Homo sapiens: one gene and its partners. The protein of the gene in region 1 purifies or fractionates together with the protein of each later gene. This does not show direct contact. Each region holds a gene or a part of one and is shown on either strand. Other genes may lie near its edges.

Region 1 (5,128 bases):
GAGTTTCTGACGCCGCGTGTCGGGAGGCGGCCACGCCGCGAAGATCCGAGTTTCTGACGCTGCGCGACGGGAGGCGGCCACACCAGGAAGATCCGACATCGCATAACCGGATGTAGCCACGCCGGGAAACCGGACGCAGCTGCGCGGGGAAGGTCTAAGTATTTTCCAAAGGAGGCAAAAGGCAAAGTCAGCACATCCAGGCCCAAAGCTTCCACACAGCAAAGGGAAGAATGAGCAGAGTACAGCCGCAGGGACAGCCCGCGGGTACGGGATGGGAGACTGTATCTTAGAACCGCCGCCTGACAAGGATTAATCACTGGAATATATGAGGAGCTCAGGCTCAATAGCAGACAATCTAATAATCCAATTAAAAATGGGTAAAAGACCTGAACAGACAGCTCTCAAAAGACAGCATGGAAATGACAAACAGGCGTCTGAAAAGGTGCCCACCACCACCGCTCCTCAGAGAAATGCACATAGAAACAAGTGAGACATCCTCTGACCCCAGTTAAAATGGCTGCGGAAACAAGTCCCGGCGCGGATGTGGAGACAAGGGAACCCTCACGCTGCTGGTGGGAATGTAAATGAGCACCGCTGGGAGAACAGTCTGGAGGTCCCTCCAAAACTAAAAATAGAGCCCCATACAGCCCGGCAATCCCACTTCTGGGCAAATACCCAAAAGAGAGGAATTCAGCTATGGGGGAGAGCTGCACGCGCACGCCGAATGCCCCACTGTTCCGACAGCCAAGGTGTGGAAGCAACCGGGGTGTCCACGGACAGATGAAGGGAGAAGGAAAACGTGGAGCGCACGCAGTGGAATATTATCCGGCCACAAAAGAAATGAGATCCAGTCATTGGATCAACATGGAGGGAAGTGGAGGTCGCTATGTTAAGTGAAATAAGTCAGGCACAGAAGGGCAAATTCCGCACATTCTCATTTGTGGGAACTAAAAATAAAAATAATTCAACTCATGGAGATAGAGCAGAAGGATGGCTCCCAGAGGCTCGGAAGAGGAATGGGGCCGGGGGAAGAGGTGGGGATGGTTAATGAGTACAAAAACAGAATGAGTAAGATTTAGTATTTGATAGCACAACAGGGTGACTATGGTCAACAATAATTTATCACACATTTAAACATAACGAAAAGTATCACTGAATTATTTGTAACACAAAGAAAGTGTAAGTGTTTGAAGTGACGGGGACCCCATTTCCCCAATGTGATTTACACACACTGCATGCCTGTATCACAGTATCACACATGCCTTATATACACCTATGTGTACCCACAAAAATTAAAAATACAAATTTTATTAAAAAAAAGAACAACGTCATTATATTCACCAACAACAAAACAAAACAAAAAAAAAAAAAAGAAAAAAAAAAGCAAATCGTTACATTCCAAGTGTGAGATGGACCAGCGGATTTTAATGCACTGAGCGTGGAAGGCTCTGTGGTGTGTGGCCTCAGGCCCTGTGCTGTGAGTGACCTTCAAGGGACGGCCTGTGTCGCTGTTGGCGTGGTATTGAAGAAGTCCCACGCCTATCTGAAAAGGCTACTAAAATACTCTTCTTTTGTCCAACTACACTTGAAGCCACAGGCGAGGCCAGATTATTTTCCACGTATTTCAGCCAGAGCCATACACATCATGACTGACTGTATGGAAGATGTGAAAGTCCAGTGTCTTCCATCAAGCTACACATTTAAGACATTTGCAAAAATCGTTCTTGCAGATGATTTTGTTTTGGAAAGTATTTTTCAAAAACACAAGCCATCTGTGTCAATATATACTGGGCTTACTATTGTTATTTTAAACAACTAACAAGTATTCTAGAATACTCTCAGTTTTGATTTCTGTTAGAGGAAATGTCAGCAGCTATCACCACAAAGACAGCCGCTCTCAGGGTTTGCCAAGAACTCAAGAGTGTGCCAGGCCGGAGCTGAGGCCCCTCCTGTGCCCCAGGGCCCTGTGGCCGGTCACACGGCTCAGCTACAGATGCCCGTGGCAGGCGCCGAAAGCAGGCATCGGAACGAAGGCCAAGCCGTCGGAGTCTCACCTAAAATTGCATCCTGGATGGCCCTCTCTGGATCGTCAAGGTGAACCAGCAACTCTCGGTACAGGTACTGGACACTGCTCTGATAGTAGGATTTTGCGTTGGCACCCTTGACACACTGCAGCCAGGTGACCAAGGTGGAGGCGGCTGCCATCCTCACATCGTTGGACACGTCATCTAGGCGTTTTAAGAGTTCTGGAAGGAGGGAGCGAGACAGGTGTGTGAGTCTAGAGCAGACATTTCACGTCTAAACGTCCACAAAGGCATTTAGTTCATACTCCCATGGGACACCTGCCCTGGGGTCCTAAGAAACCCACACCTCACGGGAGACTCCGTGCATCCCGAGCCACATGCAAGGTGCTCCTGGCGACCTGGGACCCCTGAACCCCAGCCAACAGAGTGGAGGCGGCCCAGGCCCTGCTGCGGCCCCTGTAATAACCTGTCCTGCAGGCGCAGAGCCTCCCTGTAGCTGTAGCTGTGTGCTCACCTGGTCCTCCACCTCCTCGCAGCTGTGTGCTCACCTGGCCCTCCACCTCCTGCTCCCAGATGCTCAGATCCCCGAGCTGGCCACCCTGCCCAGCTCTGACCCTGCCCTCCCACCAGAGCTGAGGACTCAGTGACAGACAACCCCCTACTGTGGTCAGTTTTCTGCTGCTGAAAACAGAAGGATGATCCTTCCCGATGGGTAGAAACTTATGAGGTTAATGGACATAATTTTTATCAAATTTATGCTTTTTTTACATCATCTTAAAAAAACTTTGGCACCCCCTTCTGTGCAGCATCCGGAAATTCGCAGATGACTGAGTCGCAAAACCACCCGGAGGCCCATCTTCCCGACGCTGGGAGGGGCAGCTGCCCATGCCTGGCATGAGGCCCATCTTCCCGACGCTGGGAGGGGCGGCTGCCCGCGCCTGGCACCAGGCCCATCTTCCCGCTGCAGACGCGAGGGTGGGCTGGGTCTCTGATGCTTTTGCAATGTGGAGGGCATGATCCACCCTCAGCAAGAGGATCCTATGTAACGAAAGGCATGAAAAACATCCAAAGTTCAGGCCATCCTACCAAGCCAGGCTTTGAGACAAGTGGGACCCAGTGGGTTAATTCCTGGCAGATGCCCAGGCACTTCCCTGAGGGTTCTGGGCCCTGAGGGTGCTGGGCCTTCCAGCCACCAAACACAGGCACCAAGGAGGAAGCCACGGAGCACATCCAGGCATTATGGTGCCAAACCCTGAAGCAGCCCTGCACGGCAGGTGCCCTCACTGCACAGCGGGTATGCTCACTGCACAGCGGGAGCCCTCGCTGCATGGGGGGTGCTTTTGCTGCATGGGGGGTATGCTCACTGCACGGCAGGTGCCCTCACTGCACAGGGGGTATGCTCACTGCACGGCGGGAGCCCTCGCTGCACAGTGGGTGCCCTCGCTGCACGTGTCTCAGGAGGAAGGACGGAGTCAGATGCTCAACTCACCCAAGCTTGTCCCGCTAGCAAACATCTATGGGCCCGGACAGGATCCTCCGAGGCCTCCTGCTGGCGCGGTCGACTATGGAAGTACACAGAGTGGCACTGGCTATTGTGTTTTTACGATGGTCACTCCCTGGATGGCCTGCAGGTCCACTTTTGTACCAGTTTAGGGTTCCTTTCATGCACGACTAAGCCAGGCAGAATCGGCTCACGCTGGCCTGTCTGCTGTTCATGTTTGTGTCTGTCTGTCCTGGGAGGCCTGGATGTCTGTGCTCCCAACTCAGGACATCCTTCCTTCCCCACCAAGGAGGCCATGATTCATCCAACACTTCACCCTGGGAAGCCCAGAGCTGGCACTAATAGGCAAGGGGCCTCTCAAGGAACCTTTTGTAGTGAAAATAAACAGGGGGCCGTGGCCCAGATGCCCAAATGCGCTCAGATGCCCAAACGCGTGCAGCCTTTCCGCCAGCTCCTGTTTTAAAAAGTGAGTGAATTCCCAACAATCGCATGGACTGAACTTGTTCCAGAGTCAGTGGGAACAGGATGTTTGTTACTAAAGAATAAAAACAGAAAAGCAAAGGTGAGAGAATGAGTGACAAAGGCCCCCGGACCTCAGAGTTCAGCAGGCGGCGGTTTTTCTGCCCAGCGCCGTGTGTACTGTGAATCTGAAAATTCATGTCTGTCTCCAGTTCTGGAAGATTCTGAGGCACCATCTCTCCTCCATTCTCTTCTCCTGGGATTCAGAAAAGCCCGGGAGCCTCTCGGCCCACTCGGCACCTCTCTCCATCCCGTGTCCTCTGCCCGCTCCAGGCCCCGCGTCCCTCCCCGTCCCGTGTCCTTCGCCCACTCCAGGCCTTGCACCCCTCTCTGTCTCGTGATCTTGAGGAATTCCACATTCCTGGCTTTCACGTCACTAACTTTGTTTTCAGCCACATTCAGTCTAGAGTTGACCCAGTACACAGAGTGTGAAGTTCCGATGACTCCATTCATTTCCGGGAATTAGCAAGAACCATCTTTTAAAAACTGCTAAACATTTCTGGCATAAATACACAAAATATAGATAATCACATTAAGTAGAGCTAATCAGGAACGCCTGAGTGGCCGCTTCCCGCCCACCCCATCCCCTTTCTCCCTCGCTGGGTAACTCCTTTCCTCAAAGTAGTGCCAGCACACCATTCCGTGTCACTCCGGACTTCCCAGCGATCGCTTCCGTTTCCATCTGTTCTTTATTCCTGCTTGTCTTCTTGTTTCTCAACTTGTTTTTTAGTGGATGTTGTTCTTTTAGCTTTTTGAGGATCTTAAACACGCCTCAATAAAGGTAACTTTGAGGTGGTTCTATTATCGGCACTTCCTTCCCGGGCTGGGTGCGAGGCTGCCCTTAGCGCCGGGTCTTCGGTGTTCTGAGGTAGCAGTCCCCAACCTTTTTGGCACCAGGGGCTGGTTTCATGGAAGACAATTTTCCATGGACCAGGGGGTGAGATGGTTTCAGGATGAGTCACGTGCGTTACGTTTATTGTACACGTTATTTCTATGACTACATTGTAACATATAATGAGATAATTCTACAACTCATCATCCTGTAGAATCAGTGGGGGCCTGAGCTTGTTTTCCTGCAACTAGA
Region 2 (5,128 bases), on another chromosome or scaffold:
AAACAACATATCCTTTTTCTTCTTGTATTAAGCCACTACACTTTTGGAGTTGTTTGTTACCACTGAGCATATCCTCGCCCATGCAGACCAACATAACTCCCATGTAAGATAAAGTGCGGAAAGGAGACCATTACACGTGATAAAGCATGACTCCACAACAGCTGGATGCAAGCCCTGGGCAAGTTCCTTAATCTTCTAGACCTCAGCTTCCTCATGCTAATCATCAATCAAGATCCTAACAGTACCGAACTCATAAGGCTAATGTAAGAACTGAATGAATTACTGATTTTTGAAAAATACTTAGAACCAGGAAGAGACCAACACCAGACTTTGAAAGTTGATACTGGCATAGCCAGAGACTTGACGATGGATATAGAATCACCAAGGCAAGAGCCTAGTACACAGTATACCCTCAATATGTCAGCTACTCTCATCCAGCTATGTAACCATGAAGCATATTTTAAAATAGAAAAGGGAAGGTAAGAAGGAAGCATGGTTAAAATGGTTACTTTCTAAAATATTAAAACTGGTCAGATTTAGGAGTTACTTTTTCCTTCTTTGTATTATTCTATTTTAATGTATTTGTACAATGCACATATGTTAATCTTCCTAGTTATAAAAGTAGTGTTTTTTAAAGAGTATAGTATTTATTACTATTTCTGACATTTCACAAAGCATTTTTGCTGACATTCCATAAATGGCACCATCTAATAATGTTCTATTATTTTCTTTTTGTGAAAGGAGCTCGTATTTTTAAAATATTTCGGTACTATTTGTTATTTCAAAGAGATATTTCCTTATTCATTTTTTTCCCTCTTTCTTTAATATAAACAAGCAAACTTCAAGTGCCATTTTTTAAGAAACTAAGCTCTTTCAAAACCTCTGGAAGATCTGTATTTGGAAAAAGGTTGAAACCAATCTGGAAAAATAGTTCTTGAGCGCATTTTCCCAGCGTGTAGAGGTGAACTGCTTTGTTTGCCTACACAAGCATCTGAAATAGATCAATAACCACCTTAAGATGTATTTTATAGACAGAAGGCACCATCACCAGTGTCTTCCATTTTTTCTTAGGGCTCCAGCATTTTTTACATTTTAAATAAGAGAAGGGACAGTTTGATTCTGGAAATAGGTCTGGCTGCTGTCTTAACTGAATTCCAAAGGTAGCAGGATCCCACCCCCAAGTATGACTTCCTGCTCAGCCTCTGTGGGACTATGAACAAAAAAAATTTACCTCAGGAGCCTCCGGGGCAAATCTCATCTGCCACAAAGAACAATGCCTGCCTACCTCCTTCCCCAGCTGTCCTAGCCTAGGGGTCACTTACTGTCATCCAGTGGCATCTTTCTCTGTGGGGCAACAGCACTGGGCTTCAGGTTGCGATAGTCCCGGGAGAGTGCAGAGATGAGGCTGGCGTGGTTGATGGAGCGCACGGGCCACTGCTGCTCATTCTCTGGAAGGTTTGGCCACGGAAGCAGCAAGATGTTAGAGAGGGCTCGGCACACCAACACCTGGGCCTACAAGAGACCCCAAAGGCATCCATCAGAGGTCAGAGCCAAAGACCGTGGTGCGGCATGCCCAACACAGCCTTCAGCACCCGCTGGCTGCACACCTGGAACCCTAGCCCCCAGGCTCGTTTCTTGCAACCTGGGCAAGGCCTTTGGTCCAACTGGAAGGCAACTTAGGGAGGAAGATGAAATGAAGTAATAGCACCATGTCTAGGTCTAGCATAACCCAGAGCTAACCTCTCGTTTCCTCTCTAATCTGATACTTGAAGTATTAGAGAGGGAAAAATCACACTGCAGACACTGAATCTCAGGCATTGTTCAGCTGGTGGCTTCTGAGTCCTCTGAGAAGCTACTTAGAGCAGGACTTGCAGGAGAATCCGTGACAATCCATGCCCCTAGCACCAGGTCACATCCTGCAATCACATCCTGGTGCCCTCTGGTACCCTCTTCAAACCTTCCTGCCCTCCCTCCTGTTAGGTGGTTTTTAAACTTCTAGCTTGAGCCTCCTTTGAGGATTCTAAGAAAATGCACTTGCCTGGCACTTCTCAACCCCAAAGAACACACACAGAACAGTGACAACAAAAACCAGACTGCTTTGAATCAGAAAGAATGCAAAGAGAATTCTCACAACACTGGCCGAAATTACCAGGCTGCAAAGCAGCAAAACCTTTCTGCACACTGGGAGGTGCTTTTCCACGCCTCAATCAGCACACTGACTGCCTGCCTTAGAATGGGCACGATGAGAATCACTGAGTCTGTGTCAGTGCCACACAATAAGAAATCTGTCTATGCTGGTACAGCCTGTAAGCTCTGAGTACAAAATCAAAGGCCAGACTCTTCTTCCTCAGCTTCCTTGGGTCTCAGTCACACAGCCCTGGGGACCCCGGGGGAGCTCTGGGGCCTCACCTTATCGACAAGTCGCAGGGCAGAGGCATCAGTGATTCTGTTGAATACTTTCTGCACTGCAGGGATGCTGATCAGAAAGACGGGCCGCACGGTGGTGGCCAGTGAGACCAGTAAGTGGCACGCAGATAGCAGCAGCTTGTCTTGGACCTGCAGAGGGAAGAGGGCACGTCAGCTCACCACATCCCTGTAAGACTGGGATTCGAACTTTGCTGAGGCAGCCACAAGCTATGTGTCATTCTTGGTTTCCAAATTACACCACCTAGGCCCTATCTAGCTCAAGAATTTTTCCTATGATGACTACAAGAGAAGCCCATCTTCTCTGTCATGTCCACAGCTCCTGCCGCAGCCATTATCACCTCCTCCCGTTCCTCCTTCACAGTCACCAGCAGCCTTGAACTCAGGCACTTCTCAGCTTAGAGTCTGCAGTGGCTCCCTATCAGCTATTAAATCACACTCCCTGGCATGTCATCCAGGTCCTAGAATTCTTCACCTCACTAATTGTTCCAGCAGAGCCAAGATCTCCCCGAGCCCCCGACTCTTCTGTGCCTTAACACTCAGGCCAGTCTCTCCTACTGCTTTCCCTTCAGCATGCCTATCAAATACTTGGTTCAATTACCACTGTTGCTTTCAAATTAGCAAAGGAGAAAAACGTGTTACAGATGGGACCTAATGCTGGTAAGACTAAGATAAAAACAGCACACCAAAAAGTCAAGGCAGGCAGAATTACTTCGGGAAAAAAATTACTATGATTTCCCAAAGTCACAAAATATTCCTAACCTTTAACCCTTACTCTAAGATTACCTATAACCTATAATACTTACTCTAAGAAGATTACCTAAAAGGGTAAAGCTACATTCATGAATGTGTGCATTTCAGAATTCTTTATAATTTTTTATTTTTTAAGGGAGGCAGCCTAGAAGTCCAGCAATGGCTAGGAAAATAATGAAACATATTCCTGATGGGATAGGACTATTTTCAAAGTTATAATTATAAATACAACATAAATTTATGGAAAGCAACACATTGTTATTAAAACAATACACTGTTTAAAAATGTATAAAATGTTATGTATGACTAAAACTACAAAAAAATTCAAAGAATAAACACATATATGCTCTAGTAATATAGCAGACTTGGAGGATAACATAATAGAATCTGTCCAGTTTTAACATGGATATAACCTTTGACTCAGTAATTCCACTTCCAGGAATCTATCCTTCAGGCCCACTAGCATATGTAAGATGGACATAAAAGGAACTCATTTCTAGCAATAGGAAAATTATTATACATCCTCACAAAAAAAAAAAAAAAAAACCACTGGACATTTTGACAATCTGAAGTTGCTGTACATATGTAAAGGAAAATGAAGGCATACTGTTAGGCAAAAGCAGCTATATCTCCAGCTATCTACAAACTTAGTTATTACTTATTACATAAAAAGAGAAAAAAGTCTGGAAGGATATACAGGCATACCTCAGAGATACTGCAGGTTCAGCTCCAGACCACCACAATAAAGCAAATTATGCAATAACGCAAGGCACACTAATTTTTTTGTTTCCCAATGCATATGTTTTGTTTACACTATAGTCTATAAAGTGTGCAATAAGCATTATGTCTAAGAAAACAATGTACATATCTTAGTTAAAAAGTAGTTTATTGCTAAAAATGCTAACAATCATCTGAGCCTTCAGAGCGGTAATCTTTTTGCTGGTGAAGGGTCTTCCTTGAAAGTGACTGCTGCTGACTGAACAGGGTGGTGGTTGCTCAAAGTTGGGGTGGCTGTGGCAATTACTTAAAATAAGACAACAATGAAGTTTGCTGCATCGATTGACTTCCTTTCATGAAATATTTCTCTGGAGCATGCGGTGCCGTTTCATAGCATTTTGCCCACAGTAGAACTTCTTTCAAAGTTGGAGTCAGTCCTCTCAAACCCTGCTGCTGCTTCATCAACTGAGTTTATGTGTTATTCTAATCCTCTGTTATTTCAACAATGTTCACAGCATCTTCACCAGTTGATTCCATCTCAAAAACCCACTTTCTTTGGTCATTTACAAGAAGCAAGTCCCCATCTGTTCAAGCTTGATCCTGAGATTGCAGCAATTCCATCCCATCTTCAGACTCCGCCTCTAGTTCTCCTGTTATTTCCACATCTGCAGTTACTTTCTTTACTGAAGTCCTGAACCCCTTAAAGTCATCTATGAGGCTGGGAACCAACTTCTTCCAAACTCCCATTAATGCTGATATTTTGATCTGCTTCCATGAATCATGAATGTCTTTAATGGCATCTAGAATGGTGAATCCTTCCCAGAAGGTTTTCAGTTTATTTGCCCAGATCCACTGGAGGAACCACCATCTATGGCAGCTATAGTCTTATGAAACGTATTTCTGAAACAGTAAGACTTGAAAGCCAAAATTACCCCTTGACCCATGGGCTACAGAACTACAGAATGGATGTTGTGTGAGCAGCCATGGAAACTATGGAAACTAATATCTTTGAACATCTCCATCTGAGTCCTTAGGTAACCAGGTGCATTGCCAATCAGCAGATTTTGAAAGGAATCTTTTTTTCTGAGCAGGTCTCCATAATGAGCTTAAAATATTCAGTAAACCATGATGTAAACAGATGTGCTGTCATTCAGGCTTTGTTGTTCCATTTATAGAGACAGGCAAAGTAGATTCAGCATAATTCCTAAGGGCCCTAGGATTTTCAGAATGATAC
Region 3 (5,128 bases), on another chromosome or scaffold:
AAAGCCAAGTGAGGTACTTTCTAATTCATAAAAGATCCACTTAGGTCACTGGCAAGTTGAACTTTCAGCATTAGTGAAATCAGAAACGAGGTACACAAACTTAGCACCAATGTGGAGATACATAGCCAAAATGTGAACGACCTCAAGTATGCCCCGTGGAGAAGCTAAATTAGGCAGTCTGAAATCCCCATAGTTTTTCTGTATATGGAATGTCGTTTTTAAGAGCTCATTGCCTATTCATAAAGTCCAATCCAATCTCAAAAAGACTGCTGAGTTTTAGGCTCCTTCCTTAGTTCAGCACATTAGCCTGGTAACTATCTGGTAACTATAGTATCAGACATGACTTGGTCATCTGATACCTCCCTCTAGTAGTCTAGCACAGGAATCTTGCTATCAGCTTTCCCAATAGAATGAGTCAGAGAAGCTAAGAAATGTTGCCAAATTAATTTTGAAAAAAATTTAATAAACCATATGCTATTCAGTAAAATATCAAAAAAATTATAACCAGTAAGTTCTATTCTGCAACTACCTGTGTGGTCTTTGCAAAGTCACTTTTCCACAATGTTATTTATGTCAATCATGTGTGTGATTTCACCCTGAACTGCATCAACTTTTTTAGCCAATGTTTGTGTTTGAGGGTGTGTTTGAAGGTGTCAGATATCCTTCAGTCTTCTCTCCCACTCTTCTCCTCACTTCTCCTAATCACAATATTCTAATCCCCTCCCCAATTGCTGTAACTCAAGTTGCTTCTGCCATATCTAAAATATCATCCCCACCTACTCTCCATCTACTAAAACATTCATCTTTCAAGGTTTGGGCTAAGAAAAATCAGTCTACTGCAGTAGAAACTACCCCACTAGTGCTTTAGTCATCTCATGAATGTATACATTATTCCAACTAATCATTTTAGCATTTAAAACAAGTCTCAGATTTTCTTGTTGCTCAGGAATTTATTTGGGAAAGATCCCATGTACCCACAATAAGAAAAAGATGTGTGGTTCCAATTCCGATATCGACTTTCTAATATAATTCCAAATAAGATTAACAATTTACTGCAACCTTGAATCTTATTAATTAAAAATGGAGGAAGTTTAGAATTAAGTCATCTCTAAATCAAGTGGTTTAACATGGGATCTGGACAATATCAAAATTGATCAATAAAAGCCAGAGGGAGAAATGAGGCCTGTTTCTACTGTTAATGTTGAATGTTACATTTCAGGACATGTCAATTACCTTGTACAACAATCTGATTTAGAGCCTGTGATCATTTACACTACAGAGATTTTGAAATGACTGAAGGCTTAGATAATTATTTAAGACCTGCTTCAGAAAAGTCATGATCACTTAGTAATCCCCCACTACCTTACGCAGAATGTCACTTCTAAGGTAGAAACTAGTGGAACAGAAAAAAAGTCGTAATTCGGTCATATTTGACAAATATGGGTATTTTGAAGGAACAAAAGTTGTATACTCATGTAATTCAAAGTTTTATTTTAACATGAAAAATAATTTTTACTCATTCATTCATCAAACACATCCACTAAACTACTATATGCCAAGCAATATGTCAGGCACTGGAAATATGAAATGAATAAAGCAGATGCTACTGTCGAATTACTTTCATCTGTTGTTGGATGTAACACTTAGGTAAAAATTTTAGGAGCAAAGTACTAATTTTTAAACAATAGATCCACTTTTATAAGCCCCACTTTCACCTTACATAGCTGGACTTCTCCCTCTAAACAACTAACACTACCATTTTTATGAAGAGAAATTCCGCACTTACTATCTCTCAAATCTTATCTAGGCAAAATATTTGTCCCTCCTCTAAGAGTGCCTTTACTATTAGACTAAGCCAAGGACAGAATATTTATTCATCTTTATGCACAGTACTTGAACCACAGTAGACAGTCAATCAATGCTTCTGGGATTGAAGGCTCAAAACTTGATGCAATATATAGGTAATATAAGTGAATGTTGGTGCTTGAATAAAAGAGAAACTTTATTTTAATTCAGCATCTTAGTTTTAATGTAATTATAAAAGTCACCAAAAATTGACAGAACACTAGAAAACAAGTAATTGCTAAATCAAAATAGAATATCGTATACTTTTAATCTTTCATTTTTTTTCTTTCAGGTTTTTCAGTTGCCTTCTTTCCTAGATCACGTATTTCTATCGTTGTTCCTTTTTTATTGTTCCTGTGACCACTGGAGCACTAGTAATAAATCCTTAACTCAAATAGGTTATATTTAATTTCAGCACCCAAGCTCCAAATGCATCAGCTAAACTGGGTTATAGCATGGAGAATACCTCAGACGACCACAGATTTTATTTTTGTTAAGATTCTATCAAGACTGAGGCAAATTATAATAAAAGTTCTCATATCATAGAAAACAAATTACGTGGAAAAGGATAAACATTTATACAGTACTGAAGCGTTATCAACAATGAGTAGCAGAAATTCTTTTTCACTGAAGTCCAAAAGCCATCCCAGCCCTCCAGCAGATCTAAAGATTCTTGCTAAAGGTCAATTCAGGATATAGACCTAATACAAGAACAAGGTATTTACTGTCAAGATTTGCTATGAAAGTTCCACGTAACTTGTAACAACTCTGTCCTTGGCCAACTATATATACAAGGTGCTGTTACAATGAAATATATTTTAAGGCACAGTATTCCAAACTGAGTAGAACATTTTGCTCCCAGAGTCTGCACAGATTTTGGATTATTTATACCAGCTAATAGAATTAGTACCAATTAACCCGAGTTGGAAATCTGGGTGGTAACAGACTTCAGAGGGCTATCCAAGGTACTCATGCCTGGTGACTATGAACTACGAAAGATCAGAAAGAATGGGTCACAGGAATCAAGGTTGAGCTGGTAAGAAAAGGGGGAAAAGACTGGACTTCAGTATTGACAGATTAGCCCAGAATGAAGAGGAACAAAAACATCCTTTACTATGGTACAAATAAGCTTTATAACACAAATAATCTTCTCAATAATTTTATAAACATTCTAGTATCATCTTTAGGGTTATCTGAAAGAAGTTTCTATAGATATATTCTCTAGTACTTTTCTGTAGAAATTAAAAATAAAGATCATAATTGGCCTATTATCCCTGTATTTCATATTATTTCTAAAAATATTCCTAGAAATATCTGCAAGAATAGTTATTTTAATCTTTTAAGTAGCTGTGAAAACAAACCAAAAAATTGTATTGGGGGGTCTGAATAACCACTTTATCTCCTATAGAAAAGAAGATAGGTAAGAAGAGGATGAGTACTTATAGTAGGTGCCATGAATTAATGTCTAAGGGTGAAGATGTGAAATTTGCTCACTTTTTGAAAAGCAGGCATCAAGTTAGATAATGATCATTGATTTTATTTGTCCATTACTATTTCCCACTTGATCAAAGCACTGCCTATTAAAAAGGATAAATCAGATAATACCTTTACTACCACTAATGAATCAATAGAAAAGGCTAGGTTTTGCAGTCAGAATCTACTACACTGCTAATATTGCTATTAATAAGCTACATTATATTCTAACAACTCAAAGAAATTGCAGGATAATCCAGTATAATGCCTTTACCTTATATATAAATTGAATCAAGGTCCAGAGAGTTCAAATAATTTGTCCAAAATAATACAAATATATTTTCCAAGTTTTAACAAAAAACAAAGTTCGAGGAGCTATATCATCAATTATCAGAATCAGAATTAAAAATTAAATCACTGGCTTCAGTTAGTGCTTTTGCTACCATGCTCACGTTGCTTGATATCTAATCAATGTTACAGACTATTTAGTTCACCTTGGCCAACCTCTACATATTTCCAGCTGAAGTTGCTTTAAGTTGAAAAAACGGTATACAATCACAGAGGAGAGATATAAAGAAACAAGAATGCTGCTACCATCCTATTAGGGTTCACTCCTCTAAAAGTAGAGCAAAGGGATATCAGAACATACACAAGAAGGGCTGGAGTTTTGTTTCCCCAAATAAGTTAAGCGTAAGCTTCAAGAAAGTTTTTGATCTTCATGTTTTTGTAGCAAACAGTTAAGAACATCTCTGTATAAATATGCCTGAGATTGTCATCAAATAGCTTTATAAACATGTCTTTCTAGCTTATTCACTTAACTACCCAACCATCGCCGGTGGAAAAGACATATTTATGACAATGCTAACAATATTTTATTGGGCCAGGAGCATGACATCTTTACTGCTTATCAATATAGTTCTTTATCAAAAGATCTTTAATAAAAGCAAAGTGCAGAACAGTATATACAGTAAGTTCCTATTTGTGTAAAATAAGAAAGCTACATTTATTTCTACCTACACAGAAAATTACAATACAAGGACATCTAAGACATTCCAAGTAGTCTGTGTAATGATGGAAAAATGAGACAGGCTAGGGAAAAAAACTTACTTTTGCTAATCTACTCTTTGGTACTGTTTGAATAGTATTTTTATAATGTTTGTGAATTACTTTTCCAAGTAAAAAAAGGAGACCTTTGATACTGATGATGATACTACTGTAGGATATAGTTTGTCTTTTACAATCCCATACTCAAAGAATGAAGATTCACAAAAATTATTATAGGATTTTAAATATTCAGATCCACTCTAAACAAAAACTGAAGTTTACTCCCCAATTCTATCTTTAGAGTAAAAACAAAAAACTAAACACTTTATATTCTTTCACTTTTGAATAGACGTATTCCAATCCTAACGTGTTATTTTCATGAATAATGGAGTTCAAGTGTTCACTGATACTGCTAGTAAAAAGCCTATAAAACATTTCCCATTTTCTCTTTCTATAAATAACTGGTAAAATTTTAAGGTCACAAGAAATTTTCTACCATACACATTACAGAGATTTCAATAACTCCCAAATCTCAACAGAAACAGATATCACATACATAAAAACAAAATAGAATTACATTACTTAAAAAAAAAAAACATTAGAAAAGGTAATTCAGTTTTAATTTATTTTCATCACTTTTTCTTCATAATCCAGATATTTTAAAATGCAAAGAAAATTAACTTTCAATGATATGTTCAGGGACTGGCACTAAAAAAAATTTTCAGACTGCAAATGAGTTATACAAATGAAAATATCAAATGGAGAT
Region 4 (5,128 bases), on another chromosome or scaffold:
GCTCTTTGAACACAAAAGGTGTTCATTTTTACTAATTCATAAAGAATTATGTAACATTAAAATAAATCTGTATTCGTCAAGTCATCTGCAATGCCAGTTTATCTTTAAATATCAGCTTTTGCCAAGATATGCTAGAATTATTAGAAAGAATAACTTTCCTTCCTTTTAAGTCTTTAAAATTAACACACCTGATTGACTAAGGAAAAAGCAAACATCATCTCGAAAGACTGGTGTGTTTCTGTCCAGGAAGTCACTTGCTAGTTCCACCATCACAGGCAACTCAGTCAGCTCCTCAAGAACTTGACGTGTCTGCAGAGAAAATATGACTTGGTCACAGAACTTTCCTTCAAATACTCTTTCATCGGACTTCTTTGGATTCAATGTATAGTTTTTGCTTTTTCTGATTACAAAAATGACACGTTAGAAAATAAAAACAACCCAGATTAAAATATTTAAAAAAAAAAAATCAAAATCCTACCACTTGAGATAAGCATGGCTAACATTTTACTATCAGTCTCTTTAGACAACTATCTATGTATACATTCCTTTTTTTTTTTTTTTTGAGACGGAGTCTCGCTCTGTCGCCAGGCTGGAGTGCAGTGGTGCCATCTCGGCTCACCGTAACCTCCGCCTCCCGGGTTCAAGCAATTCTCCTGCCTCAGCCTCCTGAGTAGCTGGGACTATAGGCGTGCGCCACCATGCCCAGCTTAGTAGAGATGGGGTTTCACCATGTTGGCCAGGATGGTCTCAATCTCCTGACCTCATGATCTGCTCGCCTCAGCCTCCCAAAGTGCTGGGATTACAGGCATGAGCCACTGCGCCTGGACACATACATTCTTATAAGGAAACATACCCACACATATAAAACGTTTTGAGAAGTGGAAAGAGCATGGTTCTGAGTCAGCTTGTGTGTTATCTCTAACCTCCCAATTCCTAATCTTTAAAATGAAAATTCATGTAATACCCATGTTAGGGAGGGGTTTCAAATCAGGTAACAGATGTACAAATATATAGAGAAAAATTAAACACTTTAAAAGTACAACGTATTCATAAATATGACCATTTCCCAAAAGAAGTCAATATATTTTAGAAATCTTGTTTAACAGGGCTCACTATTTTCAACTTTTGTGGCATGGGGCAGGGGGAATGAAGTAGGGAGCAGTATGCCTCTGTGCAAAACGTAGTTTAACCTTCATTTCAGTAAATTTCCATTCTAATTATTTTTACACTAAACATCGGAAAATCAAAAACAGAAAAATTATCTTTTAGGCAGCAAAAACTTTAAGCTCAACCAATGTATACATTTAGTGTTGCTTTAATTCTAACTGTGGAGCTCACCTAACCTGACAGCCTTTCACCAGCCTCTTCAGGCAAGTGGCCCTCCCCATCTCTCACCCATCTCAGCTTTCCTCCTTCTCAGCAATAAAGAACTTAAAGGTGCCCTTATTTCATAGCCCTTAACTTTTGCTTGCCCACAAATTTGAACAGAATCGTTTTACTTGGTTCCCCCAAAAATATTAAATAACTTTGATTTGGCATTTTTTAACAATATTACAACATCATGTAAAGAAAATCATTGAAGATAAAATGCTCCTATTTTTTATTATTCTTTTCCATTAATATATTTTATTATACATAATTAAGTTACCGACACTAAAATGCTAAATGTTTTCCCACAAATAAATGTAAACCAAACCTTTTCACCCAGTTTATAATATAAATGTTACATTGGAATCATATTCTTCAAAATAAAAAGATGGGGAAAGAAGAGAGAAAGATAGAAATCTGGAGGCTTACCAGATATTTAAAAGTAATAAACCCCAAAAAAGTAATCTCAAGATTTATCTGTGCTAATTAATAGTTTATTATTTTAGTTGGGGCAACTTTTTTTTTTTTTTTTTTTTTTTTGGTTAAAGATGGGGTCTTGGTTTGTTGCCCAGGCTGGAGTGTAGCAGCTATTCAGAGGCATGATTCTAGGGCACTGTGGCCTCAAATTCCTGGTCTCAAGTGATCCTCCTGCCCCAGCTTCCGAGGAGCTGGAACTATAGGCACACACCACTGCACCCAGCTGCGAACAACTTTTTATAAATACACAAAATGACATATTTCCATCACAATAGAGTAACTTAATGCTATAAATTCCACTGAATGCCACTACAAAACCTAGAGAAAATTAAAATTTTGAAAAGCATATTAAGTAGGCTATACTTAAATCATTTATGCCTAGTGTTCCATCACTGGAACGTTAAGCATGTGGGAGTTATTTATATCCTACTGCTCAAGGTCAGCACCAAGGTCTGATGATTTTTCACAAAAAAATTTTGCAACCTCTGGCATAAATGAGTTAAGAATGATTAGAGTGTAGTCAGTTATTCAGGATATAGATACTAAAAAAAAAACATGTAAATGTGTCATGAAACAACAACAAAAATGTAAAACAGGATAAAATAAATGGTACTATTTTGTCTGATAAACCACAGGGGGATTTCTAATGTTTGTTTACTACAGTAGTCTTGGCATCCACAAAACAACAAAAAATCTTACATTAGAGAATTCTAACAGAGTATATAATTTCTGCCCCCAAATTGTCTTAGCGTTAGATGAAGCGTTTAATCAAATTTTCTATTTCTGAATACAGGGCTCATTCAGTAATAGATCTAAGCCACCACTAACGTGTTTACATCTTTCTTCTTCCCGTGTTCAAAATTTTTTTTTTTTTTTGAGACAGGGCCTGGTTTTGTCGCCCAGGTTGGAGTTCAGCGGTGCAATCTAGGCTCACTGCAGCCTCACCTTCTGGACTCAAGCGATCCTCCTGCCTCAGCCTCCCAAGTAGCTAGGACTACAGGGAGTTGCCACCACACCCCGATAATTTTTTTTTTTTGGTAGAGACGGGGTCTCGCTATGTTGCCCAGGCTCAAACTCCTAGGGTCAACTGATCCTCCCACTTTGCCCTCCCAAAGTGCTGGGATTACAGGTGTGAGCCACAACACCCAGACAAAACAATCACTTTTTTAGACCTCTACCCTTCAACATTACATAGACTTTCTGTTTAGGACCATATAATTTTGGGGGAGGAGGGGAGGAGGTATTTGGTGTAGTCTTAGAAAAGAGCAAAGCTTGTTGAGATGCAAGGGCAGGTGACCAGATAGTTTCACTCACTGCTTAAATAAATGGCTCCTAATAAATATTTATGCCTCAGCAAATAAATAAGTTATGTCAGGAACTTTGGAAGTCAATCCTAAAAGCAGAAATTGAATGTAAAGGTCTTCTGTTCATAACAGTTGACATCAGCAACACATAAACTGTCTCTTTCTAAGGAAACTACGTGGGCAAATATTGGTCTTTTATTGGAATAAAAGACCCTCATACACCTATGCTTCTGCACTGACAATACACATTTTTGATACTGAATTTCAGCTTCTAAAAGAACAATTTAAAGAATAAAATCTGATTTAAAAAAAAAAGCAGACTACCTTTCTTTGCAGTAATGTGCCCACAAAGTAAAATTGCACTGAGGTTCACACATGATGCAGGCCATCTGTCTAGGGCAAGTGAACAATGCTAAGCAAAACCCAACGATGGCTCTTACACATGTAGGCAAGCTCCCTAGGCTACAAGTCTAGGACAGTACACAAACTCTCCCCCTCTTGGCCTTTCATGAAGTCCGTTGCAGGAGGTCTATCTGTATATCTAGGGACCTTTTCTACAGATCTTCCATGGATAAATAATTCCAAGCAGCTGGTAAATTTCTCCCCTTACCTTCTTTTTTTATCACAAAAGGGAAAAGATAACACATTAACAAAACATAGTTTTACACAGTATGTTATTAGACTACTACTTGGTCTACAGATATTCTCTAATATTCAACATAATTAAAATTTTAAAAAGCACTTACTGCTACACCAGCATGGTAACTTGTTCCACAAGCAATAAGAATCAAACGCCGGCATCTCTGGATCTCCTTTATGTGATCCTTCAAACCACCCAAATTCACTGAAATAAAAGTTTGTGTACATAATTATTTAGCAAAGAACCATGTGAACTAGGCAATCGCATTTTGTGAGTATCCACTGCCAATATGAGGAAGAATACTGCTGTTTTAAAGAATTAATATTCCTCTTGGAAAGCACAGTTCTCTGTAATTTTGAAAAGTAAATTAAATAAGTCACAACTTCACTGGCGCCCCCAAACTTGTAACTGACCTTACTCACCTCTCTACATCCCCACACAATTACAGTATTTATTACATTCTACCTTAGTTAGTTATTTTTACATTCTTCTCTTTGAAAGTTATCTTAAAGGCAAAAGTAGAGGGACACAGAAAACAGATCATTAGATGTAGAGGGCTGGAGCTGGAGGAGGGGTTGACAACAATAGGGTGCAAGGAAATTTTGGGAGTGATGGAACTGTTCTACATCTTGACTTTGTAGAGGTTATGATTATGACTATGTTGTAGAGGTTTGTCAAACTTAGAGTTATACACTAGGAATGGTGAATTTTATTATATCTAATTATGTCTCAATAAACCTGTCTGGGAAAAACATTATCTCAGTTACGTTTATTTCCCCTCTGGTGCCCAGAAAGGTGCTCTGTAGAGTAACATAAACCCACTCTCCTCTCAGTCTTTGCCGTCCCCATTCCCCTAATGCTTCAGTCAAAATGCTTGATTGTTCTGATCCCTCCACATTTATCTTCAAACCCAGCATCTCTCCCTGGACGACAGCAACATTCTCCAGTTCTCTCTTCTGTTCTCCACCTCCTGGAGTCTGCTCTCCATATGCTACCAGAAGGATCTCTTACAGTGATCCTTTAAAAACATAAAGACCCTCCAATGAAGTCTGTCCTCTTTTTCATTTTCAGTTTCTATAGCTATTTACATGTTGTTCTCCATGTGTCTTGTCCAGAAATCCTTCCACACAGGCTAGTTTTCTATCTGTGAGAAATTCTCATTCAACATTCATTCAACTGGTCAACTAAAATTCCCTAATCACCCACCAAGTAAATATAGTGGTCAAGGCACTGAGAGCTTCTGGACTCAAACAATTCCAAATCTGGCTGAGGAGAATGACAGGTACCTCCTCGTGGGCCTCATCCTGCTGCTCTCTCTGAACCATTTTCAGTCTGTCTA

Evidence for each region. The genes of interacting proteins can lie anywhere in the genome.
Region 2: the proteins of DNAAF5 (region 1) and XPO6 fractionate together in Homo sapiens (co-fractionation; one large-scale study listed by BioGRID). This does not show direct contact.
Region 3: the proteins of DNAAF5 (region 1) and ACTR3 fractionate together in Homo sapiens (co-fractionation; one large-scale study listed by BioGRID). This does not show direct contact.
Region 4: the proteins of DNAAF5 (region 1) and GFPT1 fractionate together in Homo sapiens (co-fractionation; one large-scale study listed by BioGRID). This does not show direct contact.

Annotation. Positions count from the first base shown.
Region 1 is NC_000007.14:777,071-782,198, reverse strand, and holds part of DNAAF5 (dynein axonemal assembly factor 5), read right to left. Parts: intron 2,247-5,128; coding exon 2,055-2,246; intron 1-2,054. UniProt on the Homo sapiens protein: Cytoplasmic protein involved in the delivery of the dynein machinery to the motile cilium.
Region 2 is NC_000016.10:28,110,495-28,115,622, forward strand, and holds part of XPO6 (exportin-6), read right to left. Parts: intron 2,557-5,128; coding exon 2,410-2,556; intron 1,513-2,409; coding exon 1,323-1,512; intron 1-1,322. UniProt on the Homo sapiens protein: Mediates the nuclear export of actin and profilin-actin complexes in somatic cells.
Region 3 is NC_000002.12:113,958,432-113,963,559, reverse strand, and holds the end of ACTR3 (actin-related protein 3), read right to left. Parts: 3' UTR 964-5,128; downstream 1-963. UniProt on the Homo sapiens protein: ATP-binding component of the Arp2/3 complex, a multiprotein complex that mediates actin polymerization upon stimulation by nucleation-promoting factor (NPF).
Region 4 is NC_000002.12:69,338,257-69,343,384, forward strand, and holds part of GFPT1 (glutamine--fructose-6-phosphate aminotransferase [isomerizing] 1), read right to left. Parts: intron 3,994-5,128; coding exon 3,896-3,993; intron 310-3,895; coding exon 189-309; intron 1-188.